4 linked regions of the Homo sapiens genome follow. The protein of the gene in region 2 interacts with the protein of the main gene of each other region in a pairwise test. Each region holds a gene or a part of one and is shown on either strand. Other genes may lie near its edges.

What was found. The genes of interacting proteins can lie anywhere in the genome.
Region 1: the proteins of PINK1 (region 2) and SNCAIP interact in a two-hybrid assay, tested with the Homo sapiens proteins (one study listed by BioGRID).
Region 3: the proteins of PINK1 (region 2) and HSH2D interact in a two-hybrid assay, tested with the Homo sapiens proteins (one large-scale study listed by BioGRID and IntAct).
Region 4: the proteins of PINK1 (region 2) and APPL2 interact in a two-hybrid assay, tested with the Homo sapiens proteins (one large-scale study listed by BioGRID and IntAct).

What each region holds. Positions count from the first base shown.
Region 1 is NC_000005.10:122,458,737-122,462,236, forward strand, and holds part of SNCAIP (synphilin-1), read left to right. Parts: exon of another isoform or gene 1-598; intron 599-3,500. UniProt on the Homo sapiens protein: Isoform 2 inhibits the ubiquitin ligase activity of SIAH1 and inhibits proteasomal degradation of target proteins. Isoform 2 inhibits autoubiquitination and proteasomal degradation of SIAH1, and thereby increases cellular levels of SIAH.
Region 2 is NC_000001.11:20,639,958-20,643,457, reverse strand, and holds part of PINK1 (serine/threonine-protein kinase PINK1, mitochondrial precursor), read right to left. Parts: coding exon 3,466-3,500; intron 802-3,465; exon of another isoform or gene 340-801; intron 1-339. UniProt on the Homo sapiens protein: Serine/threonine-protein kinase which acts as a sensor of mitochondrial damage and protects against mitochondrial dysfunction during cellular stress.
Region 3 is NC_000019.10:16,150,185-16,153,684, reverse strand, and holds part of HSH2D (hematopoietic SH2 domain-containing protein), read right to left. Parts: intron 2,239-3,500; exon of another isoform or gene 2,107-2,238; intron 1,134-2,106; coding exon 1,044-1,133; exon of another isoform or gene 643-1,043; coding exon 477-642; intron 1-476. UniProt on the Homo sapiens protein: May be a modulator of the apoptotic response through its ability to affect mitochondrial stability. Adapter protein involved in tyrosine kinase and CD28 signaling. Seems to affect CD28-mediated activation of the RE/AP element of the interleukin-2 promoter.
Region 4 is NC_000012.12:105,191,175-105,194,674, forward strand, and holds part of APPL2 (DCC-interacting protein 13-beta), read right to left. Parts: intron 1-3,500. UniProt on the Homo sapiens protein: Multifunctional adapter protein that binds to various membrane receptors, nuclear factors and signaling proteins to regulate many processes, such as cell proliferation, immune response, endosomal trafficking and cell metabolism.

The DNA.
Region 1 (3,500 bases), on a different chromosome or scaffold from region 2:
TCTGCCAGGATAAGGCCTGATTCCTTCACTCAGGGAGATCATAATCAAGAGAGAATGAAAATAGGATTCAAGTAAAACATGGCAAGCTCTGTGAAAAAGGCCTAAGAGCTTCATGAAAATAGTAATCCCCAATAGCACCTTTGTACTCCACGTGTACTCCCAGTGTCTTGCTTGGTGCCTGGTGCATGATAGAGACTTCATAGATATTTGGAGAGAGGTGAAGCTAGAGAGAGGAAAAGTGGAAGAAGAGAGAAAAATATGAATAAAAAAAGGACTGAGCCTGTCTTCCCACAGCGGGGAAAAATGGTGTGTTCTTTATCAATATTGGCCTTCTGGTCACAAGTCCACCTACCCACAGTGAGTTTCCATTTGGGCACTTCAAATACAAGTTTTCATGCCTTGAACCAAAATCCATTTCTTAGTAGATGAGACTTATAGATGTGCTCTCAGTCAAAACTCTGAGGGAGATCACAGAAAATAGCAAGGTTTCCCTGTTTTGGTTATCAGCGGAAATGTCGTGCGTGCCGTGGACCATTCTACATGGATGCTGTAAGTTGCAGTCTGGTCACCATGGACTGTGGAAATCTGCAATCCATGCCTAGAAGAGTCAGCAAGTTAGAACACTTGAAAAACTGTTATTTAAATTTAAGCTTTTTTTCTTTCCAATTTTGGTCACTCAGAATGTGATTTCATATCCAAAAATGAAATAGAGGAGTAGCAAATTATCTGAATAATTCATGCCAGAATTACCCAAACACTTTCGTTCTTTGAATACTGTTAATTTGGGACTAGGTAATTGAAGGGTTCAGGGAGGATTGAATTATCCTGATATTTTTCAGATAAATGCCTCAAGTTAATATTTTACTTGGTACAGACTTAGCTCTAATCATAAGGGGTTTTGTCCTGCAGAAAGAGTGCTCATTTTAGTGTTTTTGACCACAGCACCTCTTATATTAAAGCAGAAATGCCCATCAAAGTCTAAACTTTATTATCTTTAGACTATGACCAAAACCTTCTTTTAAGTGTTCTATTTTAATTTATTGTTAAAGTGATATAGATACTTATAAGAGTAATACTAGCATTATAATAAAGACTGGATGTGCCCTGTGCCAAACCCACCCCCTTCCCTAGCCTCACTCTTTTGAATCGACCATTCACTTTTCCTTCAGGTGTTTTCTCTAGTATTCTCTATTTCTAAGTAACATGCTCATACAGATTTTCAGTTTCAAATAGTATCCCTGTTATCTACTGGCATTCTACTATAGAAAATCAAAATGATAGCACTTATAAACACTTATAAAGCACGTACAGTATCCCAGAGAATATTTCAGGTGCTTTACACATATGTACTATTTTAATCTTCTCAATGACACTATGTGGCAGATACTTTTTTTTTTTTTTAAGAAACAGGGTCTTGCTCAGTCACCTAGGCTGCAGTGCAGTCGTGTGATCTTGGCTCACAGCATCCTCTAACTTCTGGGCTCAAGAGATCCTCCCACTTCAGCCTCCTGAGCAGCTAGAACTACCAGCATGTGCCACCCCACCCAGCCAAGCAGATACTATTATTATCCTAATTTTGCGTATTGGAAACTGAGACATAGAATGATTACATATCTTGCCCAAGATTACATAGTAATGATGGCAATAAATTGTGGAGCCAGGATTTGAACTCAGTCTGGCTCCTAAATCCGTATTTTTAACAATGATCCAAATGTGTCTAGCTCCATTTTAGCATCCAACAATCCAACACTGCACCTGTTCTCTCTTGTTCTGTCTCTCTCTTTCCCTCTCTTTCCTATCTCTCACACACGCACCTACACACATGCACACATTCCTGCTTCCTCTTCCTCCCACCCCCATGAATATAGTTGTATCACTCTCAAGAGCTAAATCAGTATTCAGTGTTAATTATCATTATGGTTATTTAAATATTAATCACAAGGACTCATTATGTTGTCCTATGTTATATTTTCTTTCTCATACAATTTTATGTTTGCCATGGAAATAATTTTGGTTTCTTAATTTACAATGCGTTTCTAAACACTCTGCTGAAGACCAAACCATCTTTTAGCACCCTCAGACAGCTCAGGTGTTTGTCAGTTACTCTCTGTTCATGGAGACCCCTCCTCCTGCCCCCATCTTCACTGCTGCCTCCTGGCACTGCCACACAGCTATCATCCTGGAGTCTCTCATGCACATCATCCTGGGAATTCCTTGTGCTTCTCTCCTGTTTAGACTCTGTTTCCTGAACCTGTCTTTTCCTTTCTATTTTGTTTATTCTCATGCTTCAGTCATATATCTTCCCACCCAAGGAAGGTAAACAGTTGCTAATTTTTTTGAGACCCTGACAGTCTGAAAATATCTTCAATTTACCAGATTGAGTGTTTGACTCAGTATAGGATTCTAGGTGGGAAATTATTCTCTTTCAGAATCTTGAACACATCATTTCATTTTCTTTTGCTTCTAATGTGTCTGTTGAGAAGCCCTATTCTTCTCTGCCAATGGCTTGGAAGATTTTATGATTTCTTCTTTATCTCCAATATTTTGATTTTTTGATGCTTTGCCATGATGTGGGTCTGTTTTCATTCCTGGGCTGTGGGCACTCAGCAAGCTTTTTCAATCTGGAACCCTCAGTACTTCAGTTCTGGGAAATGTTTTGTACAATTTCTTTGAAAATTTTCTCTTCTCCAATTTCTCTGTTCCCTCTTTTGAAAATCCTCTTATTCTAATGTTAGACACACTGGACTGATCCTCAGATTTTCTAATGATTCTTCTCTATTTTTCCATACTTTGACTTTTTCTAGTTTGAATCTCTAATATATCTACTGAAACTTGCCTTTCAATCTTGCTATTGAATTTTTTATTTCTGTTATAATAATATTAATTTCCAACATCACTTTACTGGTCTTCTCTTTGTTCCTTTTTTATAGCTGTTTTTTTTTTTTTTTCTTTTTCTTTTTGAGACAGAGTCTTGCTCTGTCACCCAGGCTGGAATGCAATGGTGTGATCTTGGCTCACTGCAACCTCTGCCTCCTGGGTTCAAGTGATTCTTATGCCTCAGCCTCCATAACTGGGACTACAGCCACCACACCTGGCTAATTTTTGTATTTTTGGTAGAGACAGGGTTTCGCCATGTTGGCCAAGCTGGTCTCGAACTCCTGACCTCAACTGATCTACCTGCCTCAGCCTCCCAAAATGTTGGGATTACAGGCATGAGCCACCATGCCCGGCTTTTATAGAGTTTTATGTGCAAATCTTATTTAAATTTTTGCAGTCAAATACAAATGCGTATCTTTATCTTCCTTTTTACAATAAAGGTGTCGCACTGTACACACAGTTTTGTTTCTTGCTTTTTTTTATCTGACACGTTGGAGGACTTTATGTGTTAGTATATAGAGAGCTTCTTCATTCTTTAACATAGTTGCTATCATCTTCAGAAGTACACGGTGCTTCTAATTCCTGCATCTGGTAGTGCAAATCAGTTAGTTGGATTCCCTGAC
Region 2 (3,500 bases):
ATATGGGTGTAATAAACCTTTGTTGAATAAGTGAATAGATCCAGATGCAGCTAGTAGTGGTAGTGTCATCTGCCTGCCCTGGCTGCTCCTTATCCTGTGGGGAGCGCCCCCCGACCCCCAAACCACAGCCCTGCTGAGGCACAGTGGCTGGATTTTGGATGGGGTGGCTCTGCCAGCTGTGTGCCAGCCCTGCCCTTCAGCCAAAGCTGACTGGCCCAAGGAGTCACCTGCCCCAACGGCAGTGAACCTACAGTGACACTCGAGACCCAGATGGTTGGACGAAGGGAAGGGAGGGAAGTAGATTCTCTTTTTGGGAGTGTGAGTGAAGAAATCTGCCAGTCTGCAGTGGAGAGGAAGCCACGATACTTCACTGGGGCCATGAGGAGCCAGAGGTGAGCAGGCCAAAGGGAAGCAGGAACAGGAGATGCGAGGAAAGAACAGCATGTGGACAGTGGAACCACGTTCCTACAAGTTCAAGAATCAGTAACTGATGGAAATTCCCGTGGCTCACTCCTGTAATCCCAGCAATTTGGGAGGCTGAGGCAGGCAATTGCTTGAGCCCAGGAGTTCGAGGCCAGCCCGGGCAACATGGAGAAACTCTGTCTCTACAAAAACTACAAAAATTAGCTGGGCATGGTGGCATGTGCCTGCAGACCCAGCTACTTGGGAGGCTGAGGTGGGAGGATCACTTGAGCCCAGGGAGGTTGAGGCTGCAGTGAGCCAAGATCACGCCACTGCTCTCCAGCCTGGGCAACAGAGTAAGACCCTGTCTCAGAAAAATAAAAGAAAATTTGAGTTTGCAGAAACCACTTTCTGAAAGGCTGAAACTCCCTCTGCTTATGAGATAAAAGAACTGGCTGAAATTGGTTGGAACCAATAAGGCCAATTGCAGCTTGCACAGAACAAGTTTGCTGATGTCAAAGCCTGAATTGCCACTGCACGTTTCATACTCACTCCTCCCAAATCTGCACAGGGGACCCATGAGTTGGCATGAACAGATAACTGTGCATGTCCAAGGACTGTCCAGACTTCTCCTTTCCTTCCATCAATCACCTGCTAATCTTAGAATCCACCCCTTAAACCTCCTCTAATAAAATTACCGCCTTAAAGCTAGCACAGGGAGACAGGGTTGAATTCAACTCCTGTCTCCATATGAGTCGACTCACAATAGAAAGCTTGGCTTTTCTCAAAAATCCAGTGTGACTGCTTCTAGCACATCAGGCTAGAGCCCCCTTTGCTGCATAACAATGGTGGAGGGAAGCGAATGGGGCAGAGCCTAGACGGTGCTGGGGAGAGAGCAGGGCACCGGCCTCTCCCAGCACTGCATGGTCCCCAGGCTGTGTGGCTGCAGTCCACGTGTGCCCACGCGCTGCTCCTGCTCTTGAGTCAACCTGAGTGGCCCCTGTTCTATGCAATCAAAGGAGCCAGAGCATCGTTTCCACCCTCGGGCCCCTGGGCAAGTCATGATCACAGCCCCAGGCTGTCAGGGCCCCAGCAGGTGTCATGGGAGCTCAGGGGCAGAGGAGTATGGCTGTACTGGGGAGATACATGGTGGGGTTGCGGGTGTCTGAACTGAGACCTGAAATGTGGGAGGAGGGCAGCCCAGGTATAGCCAGCTGTACGCTCAAGAGATGGTCACAGAGAAGCCTGGCACATTCGGGGAAGGAGCTATGAAGCCAGCGTGGTGGAGTGTAGGGTGCTGATGAGAAGGGTGAGAGATAAGGCGGGAGACGTGGTGAGATGAGCAGGTTAAGCGCCTTCAATCTCTGGGCCCCAGGAGAGCAGAGGCTAGGAGGAAATGAACCCAGGGTGTTCTTGGGAAAGCTTCTCCCAAGGTGTACCAGAAGTTGAGGTAATGTACCTGCTGCCACATCTATCCGGTCATTCAACAGGTATTTACTGAGGGTATGCAGTAAACAAAGAGTGTTTACAGTACAGCTGGAGCAAAAAGGAACCAACAGAAAAAGACGTGTTATTTGAGGCCAGACAGTGAGAACTGCTAAAGGAACAAAGTCCCTGAAGAGGGACAGGGACTATGTCAGATGGGAGGTCTCAGCAGCAGACATCATGGTGCTCCGGCAGCAGGACAGCACCACGTCGGCCGGCTGCCACTCATGCCACAAAAGGAGGCATCAAGGATCATGTTAGCCCCAAAGCAGCTGACATTCAGGTGTCCACTTTCTCCAAAAAGGCCTCAGGAGAAGCAGCAGCCACTTGAGCAGCTACCTCCACCGGCCTGCAGGGACTCCCAGTCACATTGGAAACCTCCAAACCATGGAAGGGGTTTTCCACAACCACTCCCTTAATTTCATACTTTTGCCTCCCTGCTTCTGACAGAATGAAGATCTATAAACCAGCCCTCCAGTAAATCACCAAAAATGCAGCAGACCCACCTCTTCTTGGTGGGTCTACAAATGAGAGACAGGGTCTCACTCCAGGGTCGCCCAGGCTGGAGTGCAGTGGCATGATCTTGGCTCACTGCAGCCTCAACCTCCCTGGACTCAAATGATCCTCCCGCCTCAGCCTCCTGAGTAGCTGGGATCACAGGCATTTGCCCCCATGCCCGGCTAAAATTTATTTTTTGTAAAGGCGGGGTTTCACCATGTTGCCCAGGCTGCTCTTGAACTCCTGGGCTCAAGTGATCTGCCTACCTCAGCCTCCCAAAGTGCTGGGATTACAGGCATGAGCCAGGCTGTAAATATTGAGGTGGGCACAAGTATCTCCTCTGTCATAGCCTGCGCGTCAGTCCTCACCACCTGTGGTGAGGCTGGTGGTGGACATGGGCTTTTCTGAGCTGAAAGCGTAGCTGCTGTTCACTTGCTCTTCCCTCTGCTGGGAATGCCACTTCCCTACTCCTCTGCCCAAGTAATGCCAATTCATCCTTCACAAGGTGGCACAAACTGTCCCTTTGAGAAGGCTTTCTGAGCAGCCCCTCCTCTGCAGCACACGCCTCCCCTGGGCTCCCTCAGCCCAAGCATACTCGATTCTAGCACTTACACCCTGGGCTCTCTGCTGCCACACTGAGACCTCTGGGCCAACAGACCACTTTTTGTTTTTTTTAAAATCTCTTGGCACCATCAGTGCACATAACTATTAGTGAAATGAGTGTTCCCTCTGGTGGGGACAGAGTTCAGTTTATTCCGATAGGTGGCGCTCTACCCGTGCATTTCTTAGGAGGAATCTGAGAACCCCAGTCAATCATGCAACACTGTGAACTGGGCATTTTTGGGGGGCCTCCTCTCCCCTGCTCCAATGTGAATTACGCAAGTGCATCATCATTTGGGGTCAGATTACCTGCAATCTTTCCCAAGTGAAATTATCCACTAACTGAAAATCCATCACCAACATTAAGCCTTTATTATCTACTGTCATATCAGACACTGTACCAGGTGCTGAGGACATAAGTGATGGATGAAGTTGCTCTCAAAGAAGTCCCAGTCAGTCTGGCAGGCAGAGGGCACTTACCTGTAAGTGACTGCTCCATACTCCCCAGCCAAGGC
Region 3 (3,500 bases), on a different chromosome or scaffold from region 2:
GCCACGCCCACCGAGCTTCTAAGGAAAGATGCTCCACCCACAGCAGTTTATTGGGAGCCAGGCCACACCCACTGAGCCTTCTAAGGAAAGATGCTCCACCCACAGCAGTTTATTGGGAGCCAGGCCACACCCACTGAGCCTTCTAAGGAAAGCGTATTGGGAGCCAGGCCACGCCCACCGAGCCTTCTAAGGAAAGATGTCATTCCTTCAGATGAGCCAAGATTATACCTGGCACATGAACCCTTATAAAAAATCAGCCTGTTGACATGGGCCTGGAGGGCGGAGCCATGGGGAAGCAGGAACCACAACGGAGACCGCTGTGGGGGGCAGAGGGACTACTGGGGTGGGGCCGGAGGGGCCAAGGACCATGAGAGTGACAGAATCAAGAGGAGCTGATGGGGGCGTGGGAAACAAAGGGGTCTGGGGGGCTTGGCCCCAAGGAAATGGCTGTGAACCTTGTGGGTCCCCGCCCTCACCTGCCTGCAGGGCTGTGTCAGCAGCTCCCTGCGCGGCTCAATTGGCTTCTGCTGGTGGAAGGTGACCAGGGCGTCCAGCGAGGTGTGGGCCACCTTCTCCCCGGGGATCATGAAAGTCCCATCATCCAAGAGCTTCACCATGAAATGGCAGCAGCTGCTTTGGGCTCTGCGGAGACACTGCGGGGGCTGGGACATCCTACTCCCCCTCATCCCTGCCCCAAGTCCCCAGCCCTTGGGCCGGCAGCGTCACTGCTACAGCCAGACTACCCCAGGTTCCCATGCAGGCTTCTTCACTCACTGGCCATGCAACACCCAGCAGGTTACTAACCTCGCTGTGCCTCAGTTTCCCCCATTTATAACACAGGAGTACAAAGGCTGGCCTCAGATAAAACATGCCACTACGGACAAAAGCTTCACTCATTGCTTGGCTAGCAGCTCCCGTTCTCAGATCCACAGCCTCAGTTACTGCTGCTTTCTGAGAAGCTATGACATGAAGCACCCCTTGCCCCCTCCAAGGAAACCCAAGAGCCCACCTGCCCCTGCCCTGGATCCCGGCCCAGGCCTTACTTGTAGGAGAGTGTGTAGCCCACATGGCTGTGACTGACCCTGATGAGAAAGGATCCCAGTGGCTGTGACTCCAGCAAGTTCTCAGCATCCCTGGAAGGGCACACACAGAAAGGAAATGAAACAGTCCAGCCGCCCCACGTACCAGTTAGACTCCTGGGGCCATGGGATCATTCATGGAGAAGGCTGGTAGTTTTCATTTTTCTTTTTTCCTTTTTTTTTTTTTTGAGACAGAGTCTCGCTCTGTCCCCCCGGCTGGAGTGCAGTGGCGCGATCTCAACTTACTGCAAGCTCCGCCTCCCGGATTCACGCCATTCTCCTGCCTCAGCCTCCCAAGTAGCTGGGACCACAGGCGCCAGCCACCACGCCCGGCTAATTTTTTGTATATTTTAGTAGAGATGGGGTTTCACTGTGTTAGCCAGGATGGTCTCGATCTCCTGACCTCGTGATCCGCCCACCTCGGCCTCCCAAAGTGCTGGGATTATAGGTGTGAGCCACCGTGCCCGGCCTCTTTTTTCCTTTTTTTTTTTTTTTTTGTTGAGACAGAGTCTCGCTCTGTCTCCCAGGCTGAGTGCAATGGCGTGACCTTGGCTTACTGCAGCCTCAACCTCCTGGGTTCAGGTGATTCTCTTGCCTCAGCCTCCTGAGTAGCGGGGATTACAGGCGCCCGCCACCATGCCCAACTTTTTTTTTTTTTTTTTAGTAGAGACAGGGTTTCACCATGTTGGCCAGGCTGGTCTCAAACCCCTGTCCTCAAGTGATCCGCCTGCCTCAGCCTCCCAAAGTGCTGGGATTACAGGTGTGAGCCACTGTGCCCGGCCTGTTTTCTAAATGAACAAACACCCCAAACCCATCTTTTTTTTTTTTTTTTTTTTTTTTCAGCTGTGGCAGACCTTGGGCTATTCAGGGATTAGGGATGTTCCCCCCGAGGAGCTAGGAGGCGTCTGATGACCTTGATCTCAGGCCAGACCTCCTCCCATCTCCCACAGCCCCTTCCCAATGCCTGGAATCCCCCGATTAAGGCACCTTTGGGTGGATCAAGGTGTCACAAGTAACAAAGAAGGACCTGTATGCTCAGATGCATTCGAGTTCATAACCCAGCTCTACTGTCCATCAGCTGTGTGACCTCAGGCAATCGTCTCTCCCTTTCTGACCTTCAGCTTCCTCAAGGGGAGAGTAAACTCCACTTCCAAGGCTGCTGTGAGAACAGAAAGAACTTGCAACATAAGCATGACAGCTGCTACCTGGTAAGTGCTCCCAAAATGTTTGCTGTTATTATTACTATTATTCTCTCTCTCTCTCTTTTTTTTTTTTTTTTTGAGTTGGAGTTTTGCTTTTGTTGCCCAGGCTGGAGTGCAATGATGCAATCTTGGCTCACTGCAACCTCTGCCTCCCAGGTTCAAGCTATTCTCCTGCCTCAGCCTCCCAAGTAACTGGGATTACAGGTACCCGCAACCACGCCCAGCTAATTTTTTGTATTTTTAGTAGAGACGGGGTTTCACCATGTTTGCCAGGCTGGTCTCGAGCTCCTGACCTCTGGTGATCCGCCCGCCTCGGCCTCCCAAAGTGCTGGGATTACAGGCGTGAGCCACCGAAATCAGTCTATTTTCTATATTATTACCATTATTATCTGGAGTTCACAGAGAGGAAGGCCGCCTTCTGTGGGACAAGCTGGGGAGACTTTGGTCCTGCACTGTTCAATACAGAGGCCACTGGCCTTTTGTACTGATTTCCAAAACAACACAAAAAAGGAACATATGCTGTTTCATGAATTGTTTTTTGTTTTTGAGACAGGGTCTTACTCTATCACTCAGGCTGGAGTGCAGAGATGCAATCATAACTCACTGAAACCTTGAATTCCTGGGCTCAAGAGATCCTCCCACCTCAGCCTCCTGAGTAGCCAGAACCACAGGCATGTTCCACACGCCTGGCTAATTTTTTTAATTTTTTTTTTTTTTTGAGCTGGAATCTTGCTCTGTCACCCAGGCTGGAGTGCAGTGGCATGATCTCTGCCTGCAGGGTTCCAGCAAGTCTCCTGCCTCAGCCACCCGAGTAGCTGGGATTACAGGCACGTGCCACCGTGCCCAGTTAATTTTTTTTTTTTTGAGACGGAGTTTTACTCTTGTTGCTCAGCCTGGAGTGCAGTGGCACGACCTCAGCTCACTGCAATCTCCGCCTCCTGGGTTCAAGTGATTCTGCTGCCTCAGCCTCTCGAGTAGCTGGGATTACAGGCATGCGCCACCACGCCTGGCTAATTTTGTATTTTCAGTAGACACAAGGTTTCACCATGTTGTCCAGGCTGGTCTCAAACTCCTGACCTCAGGTGGTCTGCCAGCCTCGGCCTCCCAAAGTGCTGGGATTACAAGCATGAGCCACTGCACCCAGCCTAAAATTCCTTTTAGAGATGGAGTCTCACTATGTTGTCCAGGCCAGCCTTGAACTCCTGGGCTCAAGCGATCC
Region 4 (3,500 bases), on a different chromosome or scaffold from region 2:
GGCTTGTAGATGGTCACTGCAAGGCAAGCCCTTGGAGACCACTTGGTCTGACCTCCATTGTTAACAGAAAAGGAAACTGAGGCCTCTGGAGAAATTGAGCAGTTTTGAAGGCACTCAGTTACCTGGTGGGCGAGCCAGATTATAAACAGGGGTCTCCTCACTGCCAGGAGAGTGCATCTCCAGGATGTCATACTGCTTCAATAACCCTAAATGGGACAGTCACATCTGTTTGATCCTGTCTTTAAGAGAGGGCTGTGATATAATAAGTGGTAAGCACTGAAGAAAGCTATGAGTAGAAGCTTCAAGGGGAGAAAGTGAGTCTAAGATTTTGGCTCCCCAGAGAGTCAAAGGGGGGAGATAGATAACAATCAAGATAGGGTGAGGCCAGGTTGTAGAGGGCCCTTATACCGTCAGGTGGGGTCTGAACTTGACACAACAGTATAGGGAGCCACCAAAGACTCTGAACATAGGAGTGACATGATGTTAAGTTTCACCTGTACAGGATCTCCATGTCATCAGCTCTAATGGACACTTCGCAGTCATCATAATTGACTTAAAGCATCTAACACAGCTGATCTCTCCTTGAACTCTCCTCTCGGTTTCGGCTGGTGCCACATTTTACAGAGTTTCCTTCTACCTTTCTTGATGTTCCTTCTCAATGTCTTTGGCAGGCTCCTTTTCTACCCTAAATGCTGGAGTTCTTTAGGATTCTGTTGCAGGCTCTGCTTTCCCCTCCCTCTCCTTTCTCCCATAGAGGACCTCATCCACTGCTGTTCAGTGCTATGAGTCCCCGATTCATACACCCAGACCAGACGTTTTCTTTGCACTCCAGACCTGTATCATCCGTTGACTGCTTGACAACTCATTTGGGATGTTTCACAGGCCTCTCATGCTTAACATGTCCAAAACATGAACTCTTCTTTTTTTTAAAAAACACCATCTGCCCAGGTGTTCAGCTCCAACTGAAGTCATCCTTTGATCTGTCCTTTTCCGTCTACGCTTATCCATCAAAAGTCCCACAGGTTTTACCTCCAGAATAAGTCCACATCCATCTACTTTTCATCTCTGCCGTGATCCTGGTCTAAACCACCATCATCTTCTCTTGGGCTGTTGGGACGCCTCCTCACTGGCTACAGACTTGCTCTGTTCTGTGCTCTCCAGAGCAGCCAGAGCTAACTAACTTTGGAAAATGGAGAGTGGGTATCTCTGTCTCCATCACAAACACGCACCTCTCAGAGCCCTTCCACAGCTCCCCACATGCTTCCTTCTTGATCGACCCCTGCCTCCCTCCCCACCCGCCCTCATCCTGTCCCATGATCTCCACTGTCCCGTTACACTGCCTTTTTTCAGTTCCTCAGATATACTAAGATCTTCTCTGTCCTGTTACCTCCACAACTGCTACCAAGAATACACTACTTCTGGCTCTTTGCAAGAGTGGCTGCGTCTTGTCTTTCACTTTGCAGCTTGAATATTATCTTCACAGCCAGGCCCTGCACAGGTCTCCTCTTCACCCTCCATGACAGCACCTCATCTCCTTAACATTGGGGTGCTTCCCTCATTTTAACTCAGCCTGTGCTTACCTTTTGCCTGTTCTCCCCAGTAATCCCTGCGTTTTCTTACCTAGGCCAGGCCTGGGCAAATAGTAGATACTCAAATATTTGTTGAGTAGCTAGATAAATGAATGAACAGCAGATATATAGTAACTGCAGAATGAGGGAAGTCCACACATGGTACTTGCTTAGAAGTAAATAGCAGTTTGTTCCCAAGAACACAATTTCTCTGATTCTTTCCCCCCCCACTGTCATCAAAACATTGCTTTATTCTCAGTGGGCTGACCCTAAAAGAGATAGTATCCCTCTCCCCACAGCTCTGGGGCCATCTGGCAGCCACATCTGTCACCCATCCAATCACTGGGCTAATTCAGCTGGCTGGCTAGAGTCATTTTTTTTCCCCCCAGGGAGTCTTCTGTGTCCCTTCTGTGGGGTCCTTTTGGTCTAAGAATGTGACTTGCTTATTCTAGAATAGGGGGAAAAGTCAGTTACTGAATAATTAAATATAGGCTGCAAATTGTCTTTTTAGGAAACGTATCACACCTTCTAATTCCAAACCCCCCTAAACTATCCATCAACACCCTTGAGAGATGGCATATCAGAGCTAGAAGGGTCCTAGGAGGTTAGCTAGTTCCCTGTATGTCACAAGGCTGAGAAGACAAAGGCCCAGAGCATTTACTGACTTACTCAGGGACATCTAGCTGTGTATAACACAAGGCAGAGATATCGTTAGAACCCATGTCTCTCAACTGCAGGTCTGGTATTCCCTCCATTGTGCACATCAAACATTTTTGTAACTTTACAAAGAGAAGACATACATTTACCCAGGAGAAGGCTACGGGATTAACCCTCGCTGACTGGATCTTTAGTTCCACTTCCTTTCATATAGTGTCTTCCTTAGAGTTCCATTTCATAAAGCATGCTACTTGTATCAACTGTTAAATCCTTAAGTTACGGTGCTGAAATGTTTCTCGGACTTGTTGCCTCTTTCTCCTCTTTTTTAAAAACATTTGTTTACGTTCTCATGTTCTGCTTCACAGCTACTACTACATCAACATCCTACTGGGTCTTGCACTCTCCCCTTCTTCCCACAACCTGTATCCTAAAATTTATCCTACTCAGGTACAGAATAGTCTTCCCTAACCCTGGTTCTGACCATCGCCCATTTTCTCAAAACCTTCCATTTTGCTCCATTGCCTGTAACTCCTAAGCAGGGCACCCAGGTCTTTCCAGTTAGACTCAAACCTATTTTCTGGCCTTACCTTCTCCCATTCCTTCTCAGATACCCCGTGCCCGGCATGTGAACGCTGGCTCCACACTGCACAGATTCTGGGAAGTTACTTAACCACTGAGTTTTCTAATGACTTCCTTCTGGGGTCATTAGATATTTGTAAAAAATGTAATGGGGTTCTTTCTACCATGCCACTAAAAGATGAACACCAAATATAGTCGTAATTTTAATTTACCCTTTAATGCCAGGCTTTCATTAGTATGAAAATACAATCCTCTACTATTTAACCAGATGGAAACTCCCATTAAGACAAAAGGTAGGATTCCTGGAATAAATCCTAAAGCACTATTCAAAATGAGGAAAGCTGTATGCATGAAAATGTTTGCTCTAAATGATAACAGTAAACGCCAGGGAGATAACCTAAATATTCAATGGTTAATAAATGGTAGAATGGGCCAGGCGCAGTGGCTCATGCCTGTAATCCCAGCACTTTGGGAAGCTGAGGCGGGTGGATCACTTGAGGTCAGGAGTTCAAGACCAGCCTGGCTAACATAGTGAAACCCCATCTCTATTAAAAATACAAAAATTAGCCAGGTGTGGTGGTGGGCGCCTGTAATCCCAGCTACTCGGGAGGCTGAGGCAGGAGAATCACTTGAATCTGGGAAGTGGCGGTTGCAGTGAGCCGGGATTACTCCACTGCACTCCAGCCCAGGTGACAG